2 linked regions of the Homo sapiens genome follow. The protein of the gene in region 1 interacts with the protein of each later gene in a pairwise test. Each region holds a gene or a part of one and is shown on either strand. Other genes may lie near its edges. The genes, in order: TREM2 and TYROBP.

Region 1 (4,354 bases):
GCTAAATGAAACTTTCTATATTATGGTATTGTGTTACACAGACATGGTGATTGTGGTGGTTGTTATAGAGATGCATGAGTTTGTCAACATTTACACAACTAGACATTTAAAAGGGGTAAATTTTTGTATATGTAAATTATGGGCCAATAAACCTGACTTCTAGAAAAAGACCCTAGAAGAGTACCTACAGAGTGATCTTCAGGCAGCCTCAGACTTCAGCCCCCAGGCCCTTGGGGCAAGGCCGGGCAGTTGGCCCTTTGAGTGGAGGCCTGTCTTCTCCTCACTATGAATTCCCCATCTCCAAGCACATTCCCTGTCCGTAAGTTAGATGCACAGTAAATATGAGTAAATAAATGAATAAAAGAACAAATAAGTGAGTGTTTGCAGGAAACTAAAGTAGACCCTGATAATCTACAGGCTCCTGCAGGCTTCTCCAGCCTCTTCTGCCACTCCCAGCACAACTCCATTTCCCACTCCTAGAATTGACTCAAGCCTCCTCCATCCAATCCCCGACTCACTGGGCCATTTCACACTTTTGTGCCTTTGCACACGTGGGTCCCTGTGCTTGGATCACCATGGGAACCTGTACGTGTAGAAAAACACACCCCTACCCCCAGAACTCTGAGAAATATCCTGTCCTGTCCTGTAGGATAGGATGATCAGGAGTTCAAGCATGTGTGTGCACAAAATAAACACCAGTGTGAGCATGTGTGCACAGGAGACACCCAACAGTTCCAAGAAGGCTAAACTTGGGCAGAAAATTCCAGGTGGGAGAGAAAATTTTCTGTCTTATGGACAGCCCATTTCCCTTTTCCCTTCTAACTAGGATAATGGTAATAGTTAGTATTTGTTGAATGCTGTGTGTCAGGCCCTACTGGAAAGCACTTTACCTGTAGGAACCCATATGGTGCTCCTGATAACCCTTTGCACTATCATTATTCCCACTGTATAGATCAGGGAACAGACACAGGTAGGTTTTGGATGTGTGGTTACACACCCAGAAAGTCAGGAAGTCTGGCTCCAGAGCTGTGTACTTAACTGCTGCCACACTACAGGAATGACAGCCCTGGGGGGATGAACTAAGAGGTGCTGGATGAGGGTCCTGGCCTCTAAAGGCACAGCTGTTCTCCAACTCTTGCAAGGCTGAAACCAGAAGATGGCGGGCATTGCAGCTGGTGGAGGGTCTGAATACAGCTGTGAGGATAGTGATCCCTGGGCTAGGCTCTGCAAGGAAACTGAGCAGTGCAGGGCCTTACCAGCCCCAACCATCTGGGGGCCACCCTGGCTGGCACCAGCAGGAGGGTGGGCTGGCTTCTCAGAGGTCTGGGAGACTCAGCCTCCTTCTGCCAGGGCTGCAGTGGCCGACTCCTCCTCCCCTCTGTCCCCACCCTGCACCGCCTCCAGACCCCAGTCCTGACTATTGCTTAATCCCCAGGAGCCCAGTTCCTGTGGGCAGCGCCTGACATGCCTGATCCTCTCTTTTCTGCAGTTCAAGGGAAAGACGAGATCTTGCACAAGGCACTCTGCTTCTGCCCTTGGCTGGGGAAGGGTGGCATGGAGCCTCTCCGGCTGCTCATCTTACTCTTTGTCACAGGTAGGATCCCCTCCGTGCCCTGTGATGCCTTCTCTCCCTCACTTTGAGCATGTGGTTGGGGCGCGGGTGGTGGGCCCTGGGGTGAATTATGAAGGCGGTGGCAGTCCTCGCATGCCTGAGTGCCCTGTTCTGCACTCCTCTCCTCCCCACCCTGCCCATATTCTTCACACCCTCCTTCCCTCCCCAGTATCAAAACCTACCCTCAGACTCTTTCTGCATGTGGACATGTAAGGGGCTGGTGGACTCTGGTTGCATTGGAAGGGAAGGAGTGCTAACAGTGGCATCCCAGGCACTAGCTGGCAGTTGGGGGAAGCTTTGGGGGGCACTGGCACTGGTAATAGCCTCTGAAATTATAAGCCACTAATTATGAGCCCCTACAGTTATAAAGGAGGAAAGAACCTGAGGATGTTCATCTGCATCTTTGGGGCACTCTCTCCCCTGCTCTGAAGGTCCCCTTGTCCTCAGCTCTTGATGGGAGGTGAGGAGCGTAGAGATTTCCGTTGCTGAGTTGAGGGGAATTGACACACCAAATTTTTGTACACAATTGCTTCTTCCCGCTGAGGAAAGCGCACCTTTTGCTCCCCCAGAGCACTGGACAAACCTGGGCAAGAGGAGAGACGGTGCCAAATGGAGTCTTGTTCCTGCAGCTTCTTAGATGGTGGTCAGGGGGAAGGCGGGGTTCTGAGGCATGGATGGGAGGTGGTCAGATGGGAGAGGGCCACGGCCCATCTGGTCTCTCTAGTTCCAAAAGGCAAGCCACCAACTTCCCAATCCTATCTTTCAAGCCTCTGTCACAGTAATGGTTGAAGATGGCAGGCAAGGGAGGACCAAGAGAGAAGTCAAAGCAGGGGGCTCTGGGGGCTGCCCCAGCAACAGGCTGGTGCTCTAAGCCCATCTCCCCCGCCCTAAGGAGGGTTCCCAAAATAGCAGCCTCATGTCTCCCCCAAAATATCTCCGAGACGGGTCCTTCCTGAAAGGGGAACAAAGCCACAGAAATAGGGAAGCTGGAAGTTAAAGGTCAGGAAAGTCGGTACCAATGTGGGCGGCTGCAGAGCAAGCAAGAGTGGCGGGGCAGGGAGAGCCAGCCCCAGGCCGAGAGGAGAGGTCCCAGTCCCAAATGATGGCAAAGAGATGTGCAGAACAGAACTGGAGGGGGTTTTAAGACCAAGTGCCTCCAGAATAGACCCAGAGAAGGTCAGTTACTTCTCCAAGGAGGCCCAGCAAGAGCAACAGTGAGAAAACCAAACCCAGGTCCCAGGTTTCCTGGTTCCCAATTTCCCACAAACACATGCTGTGCCATCCGCTCCCAACTTGTATAAGAACCTAAGCTCCTTCAGGGCAGGATTTTTGTCTGTTTAGGTCACTGCACAGAGCAAGTGTTCAAAGCGTATTTGGTAAACAAAGGAGTGAATGAATGTCTCCTCCCCAGAGCTGTCCGGAGCCCACAACACCACAGTGTTCCAGGGCGTGGCGGGCCAGTCCCTGCAGGTGTCTTGCCCCTATGACTCCATGAAGCACTGGGGGAGGCGCAAGGCCTGGTGCCGCCAGCTGGGAGAGAAGGGCCCATGCCAGCGTGTGGTCAGCACGCACAACTTGTGGCTGCTGTCCTTCCTGAGGAGGTGGAATGGGAGCACAGCCATCACAGACGATACCCTGGGTGGCACTCTCACCATTACGCTGCGGAATCTACAACCCCATGATGCGGGTCTCTACCAGTGCCAGAGCCTCCATGGCAGTGAGGCTGACACCCTCAGGAAGGTCCTGGTGGAGGTGCTGGCAGGTGAGTGGGCAGTGGCTGCCTCTCTGGCCTGCCCCTGTTCCAGGCCTCATGTTTTGGGCGTCTGTGTGCAGAACCACCCACTGGGCTCTCAGGGATCCTGGGAAAACCCATCGTATGGTCTCATCTCCCTACTCAGGGCTACCAAGGATAGTTGTGCAGGTTGCTCACTATACAAGGGGGCCAAAATCCAGCCCGGACTCCTTTTGCCAGACTGTGTTCCCTGGTGCAGAGCTGCATCACCTGCAAGAAGGGCACCTTTCTCTACTTTGCATTAAGGCACTCTGTGAACTAGCCTGGCCTTGGCCCTCCTTGCCCAAACAGCTTTATCCATCTCCATCCAGTTAGCATGTGAACATGATAGGAGGTCCTTAAGGAGGAGGAGATTAATTTATTCCCTCACCAACCAACCAATGGCCCTATCAACGTAAGTGAAGCACCAACCTGGTGCAGAAAATCACCCCTAGAAAGGAACACTGCTTGTGCTGGGCAATGTGCTTCACTTCTCTGGGCCTCCATTCTCTCATCTGTAAATGGAGAGGGTGGTGTCTGTCCTGCTGACCCCATAGGGTTCCTGTGAGTTTTTATTTGGCGGGGGGCGTTGGGGGCAGGGTGTGACATGTGCTCCAAGCCTCCTGCTACTGAACTGTCTTGGGATCGTCATTCCAGGTGTGAGTAGGTGGGCCAGGGTGTCTCCTTTCCACCCCCGAGCTCTGCGCAGGGACCACCCTCCAGGAAGGCCTTCTGCTTGAGTCTGCAGAACACAACTGTGTCCCCAAAGGAGAACAAATCTGGGGCTACAAAGGCCTTTTCTGACTCTCCTCCTTTCCAACCCCTTCTCCCAGTATGGCTCTTTACCATGGAAATGAGGTCAGGAGTAGTATTTGCCTGACTTGGGGAGGCCAGGGGAGACTGCCAGTCATAGACACAAACCCCACCTCCACCACTTTCCTAAGGATGGCCGGTGGCAGTGAACTCCCTTA
Region 2 (4,263 bases), on another chromosome or scaffold:
AAGGGAGGGGACTCAGCCAGGCCTGAACAGTGGTGACCGTGGGCTGAGCTGGGACCTGACCCTCCTCCAGGCTCCAAATCTCCTCTCCTCCCTTCCCCCACAGGCCACTGGGCATCTGCCCTGTGACCAGAATCCAGTTTCCCCTTTTTTCTCCTAAGCCCAGGCCCAAGGAGCGGTGGGTGTGACGTGTGGATGGGGGAGGGGGGCTTCCTGCAGCTGTCTCATCCTCCAGCACCCTAACCTCAGGTTCCTCCTTCCCCAGCCCCAGGCTCCAGCTGGGGGCTAGAAGTCCCCGTCTCCTTGGGGTGGCCTCCCTTGGGCCTTGCTCCCAGCCACTTCCTCATTCAGCAGGAGAGCCAGCCACCTGCCTCTCCCCAAGCCGCCAGCCGTGCCTCTGTGTCTGTGCCACTGCCTTACTCTCACCTTTCTCAGCTTTGCCGCTGTTTTCTCCTTCCCCATCTTTCATCTTTGTTTTTCCCCCTGACTCTTCCCTAGTCAAAAACCTGATTTTGGGTCTTGGGTTCCATTTCCACCTTGATTTGCTGTGCAGCCTTAGGCAAGCGTCTCTACCTCTCTGAACAATGGGGATGATAAGAGCATGTGCCCTAGAAGGGCATTGCGGGGACTGAATGATTTAACGCTTGGGACAGAGTGCCTGCATGTCATTAGTGCCCACATGCTGCTGGCTCTTTTAATATCCTTTAAACAGCACAAGTTTCTGATGATTAAATAATCATCATCATAGCTGATGCTTTTAAAAAGCTGACAAGGGTCAGACCCTGGTCTAGGAACTTTAATTCATTTAATCCCCACAACTCTAAAAAGTAGGTCCCATTTTACTCCCAATTTTACAGATGAAGAAACTGAGGTTGGAGCTGGGTGCGGTGGCTCACACTTGCAATCCTAGCACTTCGGGAGGCCAAGGTGGGTGGATCACCTGAGGTCAGGAGTTTGAGACCAGCTGGCCAACATGGTGAAACCCTGTCTCTACTAAAAAAAAAAGAAAAAAAAATACAAAAAATTAGCCGGGCATGGTGGCAGGCGCCTATAATCCCAGCTACTTGGGAGGCTGAGGCAGGAGAATCACTTGAACCCGGGAGGCAGAGGTTGCAGTGAGCCGAGACCGTGCCATTGCACTCAAGGTTGACCAGCCAGGAAGAGGCAGAGCTGGTTTCAATCAGCCAGAGGAAGGTCATGACACTGACCCTCCTGTTAAAACGATGTCTGACCCCTGACTGGGGACGGAGGTGAAGTTTGTGCTTCACGTACCCTTTGCCCTTCACGTCTAGTTGCTGGGGGCCTGTGGCATGGCCCCTGGGTGTCTGGGCCTGATTCTTTCTTGGGTTTTGTTTCTGTCTCTCCTCCCCTGTCTCCTCCTCCCTTCTGCCACCACCCGCCTCAGACTTCCTCCTTCACTTGCCTGGACGCTGCGCCACATCCCACCGGCCCTTACACTGTGGTGTCCAGCAGCATCCGGCTTCATGGGGGGACTTGAACCCTGCAGCAGGCTCCTGCTCCTGCCTCTCCTGCTGGCTGTAAGTGGTGAGTTAGGGGCTTCCGTGGCTGCCTCCCGGGTCCCTGGGCTCAGCTTGGGGCAGGGCAGGGAGTGGGGTGGAACGAGAGAACCAAAAGTGGGTGTTGGGATGGGAGCAGGTCCCCAACCTCCCAAAGCCTGTGGGTTTCTCCCAGAGCCCAAGCCCCCAAGTTTTGTCGTCCGCTACAAGCAGGGGAGAAGAGACATCTAAGTGTGTTGCCACAGGACAAGTTGTGCAGAAGTAACGCACATAGTCCGGTGGCCCAGACGCCAGCCCCCTGAGTCCCGCCAGACACGCTCTCCCCCTTGCTAACCTCTTGGCTGTCAGGATCCACCTTCCCTGGCTTCTAAACTTGCCTCCCCCACCCCCGTCATAACTCTGTGCCTCAGTTTACCTTCTTTTTCCTCCTCAGGTCTCCGTCCTGTCCAGGCCCAGGCCCAGAGCGGTAGGCCTAGACCCAGCAGTCCCTCTCTCTACCTCCCAGAGACCTCCCTGTCTCCGTCTCTCCCACACCCTTTCCAAACCTCCCTGCCGCTGACCCCCCTCCCCACAGTTCCCAGCACACACTGACCTCCCCTGACCCCTGTGCTGCAGATTGCAGTTGCTCTACGGTGAGCCCGGGCGTGCTGGCAGGGATCGTGATGGGAGACCTGGTGCTGACAGTGCTCATTGCCCTGGCCGTGTACTTCCTGGGCCGGCTGGTCCCTCGGGGGCGAGGGGCTGCGGAGGGTGAGTGGGGCTAGCAGGGGACATCCTGAGGACTTGCCTAGATGGGGGTGGGGGGCTGGGTAAACTCCCAGATCTCAAACATCCAAAGGGATGGTAATGGAGGTGCTGATTTGGAATGACAAAACACCCTCAACTCACCACTCTGCCTGTCTCTGCACCCCACAACACCCCTCACCTCCAGCAGCGACCCGGAAACAGCGTATCACTGAGACCGAGTCGCCTTATCAGGTGAGAAAACCAGACTGTCCTCCTCACATTTCACTCCTGCCAGGGATATCTGCCCCAGATACTCCTTCATGCCATCAGAGGGACCTCAAAGCCACTCTGCCTAAAGCACCCCCAAACCTTGAAGGCACATGGGACATCTGTCCAAAACTGGGCCGAATGATCAACCACAAGCTTATGGTCAGCTTAAAATGTGTGAAGAGGGGCTGGGCACGGTGACTCAAACCTGTAATCCCAGCACTTTGGGAGACAGAGGCGGGTGGATCACTTGAGGTCAGGAGTTCGAGACCAACATGGTGAAACCCTGTCTCTACTAAAAATACAAAATTAGCTGGGCGTGGTAACGCATGCCTGTAATCCCAGCTACTTGGGAGGCTGAGGCAGGAGAATCCTTTGACCCAGGAGGCGGAGGTTGCAGTGAGCCAAGATCACGCAATTGCACTCCAGCCTGGGCAACAAGAGGAAAACTCTGTCAAAAAAAAAAAAGCGTGAAGAGTTAAAAAGAAAAAAAAAAGGGTGGCTTTGCCTTTGTAAGTGTAAACACAGGCCTTGCCAGAAGTCAGGCCAGGAATTTTCTGGAAGAAACCCAGCCCTAGGACGACTGATTTCTGGGAGACGCTCTCAGTAGGGCAGAGAATGTCATTCAGCCCTACCTTGGTAACTCTAAAGAGAGGAGTCCTAGAATCTCTTTTTTGGGTTTGAGGACCCTTCATCCCTTTGAGAAACTAAGAAAATCTAGACTCCCAGAAAAATCTACACAAAAAATACAAAATTGTGCATATAATCTGAGAGCAGTGTAAATGTTCTTTATAATTAAAAAAAATTTTTTTTTGGCCAGGCATGGTGGCACACACCTGTAATCCCAGCACTTTGGGAGGCCAAGGTGGGTGGATCACGAGGTCAGGAGTTCAAGACCAGCCAGGCCAGGATGGTGAAACCCCATCTCTACTAAAAATACAAAAATTAGCTGGGCATGGTGTCATGCGCCTGTAATTCCAGCTTCTCAGGAGGCTGAGGCAAGAGAATCGCTTGAACCCAGGGGGCGGAGGTTGCAGTGAGCCTGGGCGACAGAGTGAGACTCCATCTCAAAAAAAAAAAAAAGACAGGGGTCTCACTATGTTGCCCCAGCTGGTCTCAAACTCCCAGTCTCAAGTGATCCTCCCGCCTCAGCCTCCGAAAATCTTGGGATTACAGGCTCAAGCAACCATGCTGGTTGAGTATTCTTGAAGCTCTTTTTTCTTTCTCTACTTTAATTTTTTTTTTTTTTTGAGATGGAGTCTCATTCTGTCACCCAGGCTGGAGTGCAATGGTGTGGTCTCAGCTCACTGCAACCTCCACCTCCCAGGTTCAAGCGATTCTCTTGCCTGAGCCTCCCGAGTAGCTGGAACTACAGGTGCATGCCACCACACCCGGCTAATTTTTGTATTTTTAGTAGAGATGGGGTTTCACTATGTTGGCCAGGCTGGTCTCAATCTCCTGACCTCGTGATCCGCCCACCTTTCCCTCCCAAAGTGCTGGGATTAGAGGTGTGAGCCACCGCGCCCGGCCTTAATTTTTTTTTTTTTTTTAAAGTAGAGATAGGTTCTCACTATGTTGCCCAGGCTGGTCTCAAACTCCTGGGCTCAAGAGATCCTGTTACCTCGGTCTCCCAAAGTGCTGGGATTATAGGCATGAGTCACCATGCCTGGCTGAAGCTCTTTTTAAAAACTATAGAGTATACAAGAGAATCTAGTCATCTATCCCCCTCTCTGTCAATGTTCCTTTTTAACCCTTT

The links.
Region 2: the proteins of TREM2 (region 1) and TYROBP interact in binary tests that used the Homo sapiens proteins (3 or more experiments, as listed by UniProt).

The regions. Positions count from the first base shown.
Region 1 is NC_000006.12:41,160,283-41,164,636, reverse strand, and holds the start of TREM2 (triggering receptor expressed on myeloid cells 2 isoform 1 precursor), read left to right. Parts: upstream 1-1,520; 5' UTR 1,521-1,554; coding exon 1,555-1,594; intron 1,595-3,023; coding exon 3,024-3,374; intron 3,375-4,354.
Region 2 is NC_000019.10:35,905,447-35,909,709, reverse strand, and holds the start of TYROBP (TYRO protein tyrosine kinase-binding protein isoform 1 precursor), read left to right. Parts: upstream 1-1,414; 5' UTR 1,415-1,481; coding exon 1,482-1,542; intron 1,543-1,947; coding exon 1,948-1,980; intron 1,981-2,129; coding exon 2,130-2,264; intron 2,265-2,445; coding exon 2,446-2,492; intron 2,493-4,263. UniProt on the Homo sapiens protein: Adapter protein which non-covalently associates with activating receptors found on the surface of a variety of immune cells to mediate signaling and cell activation following ligand binding by the receptors.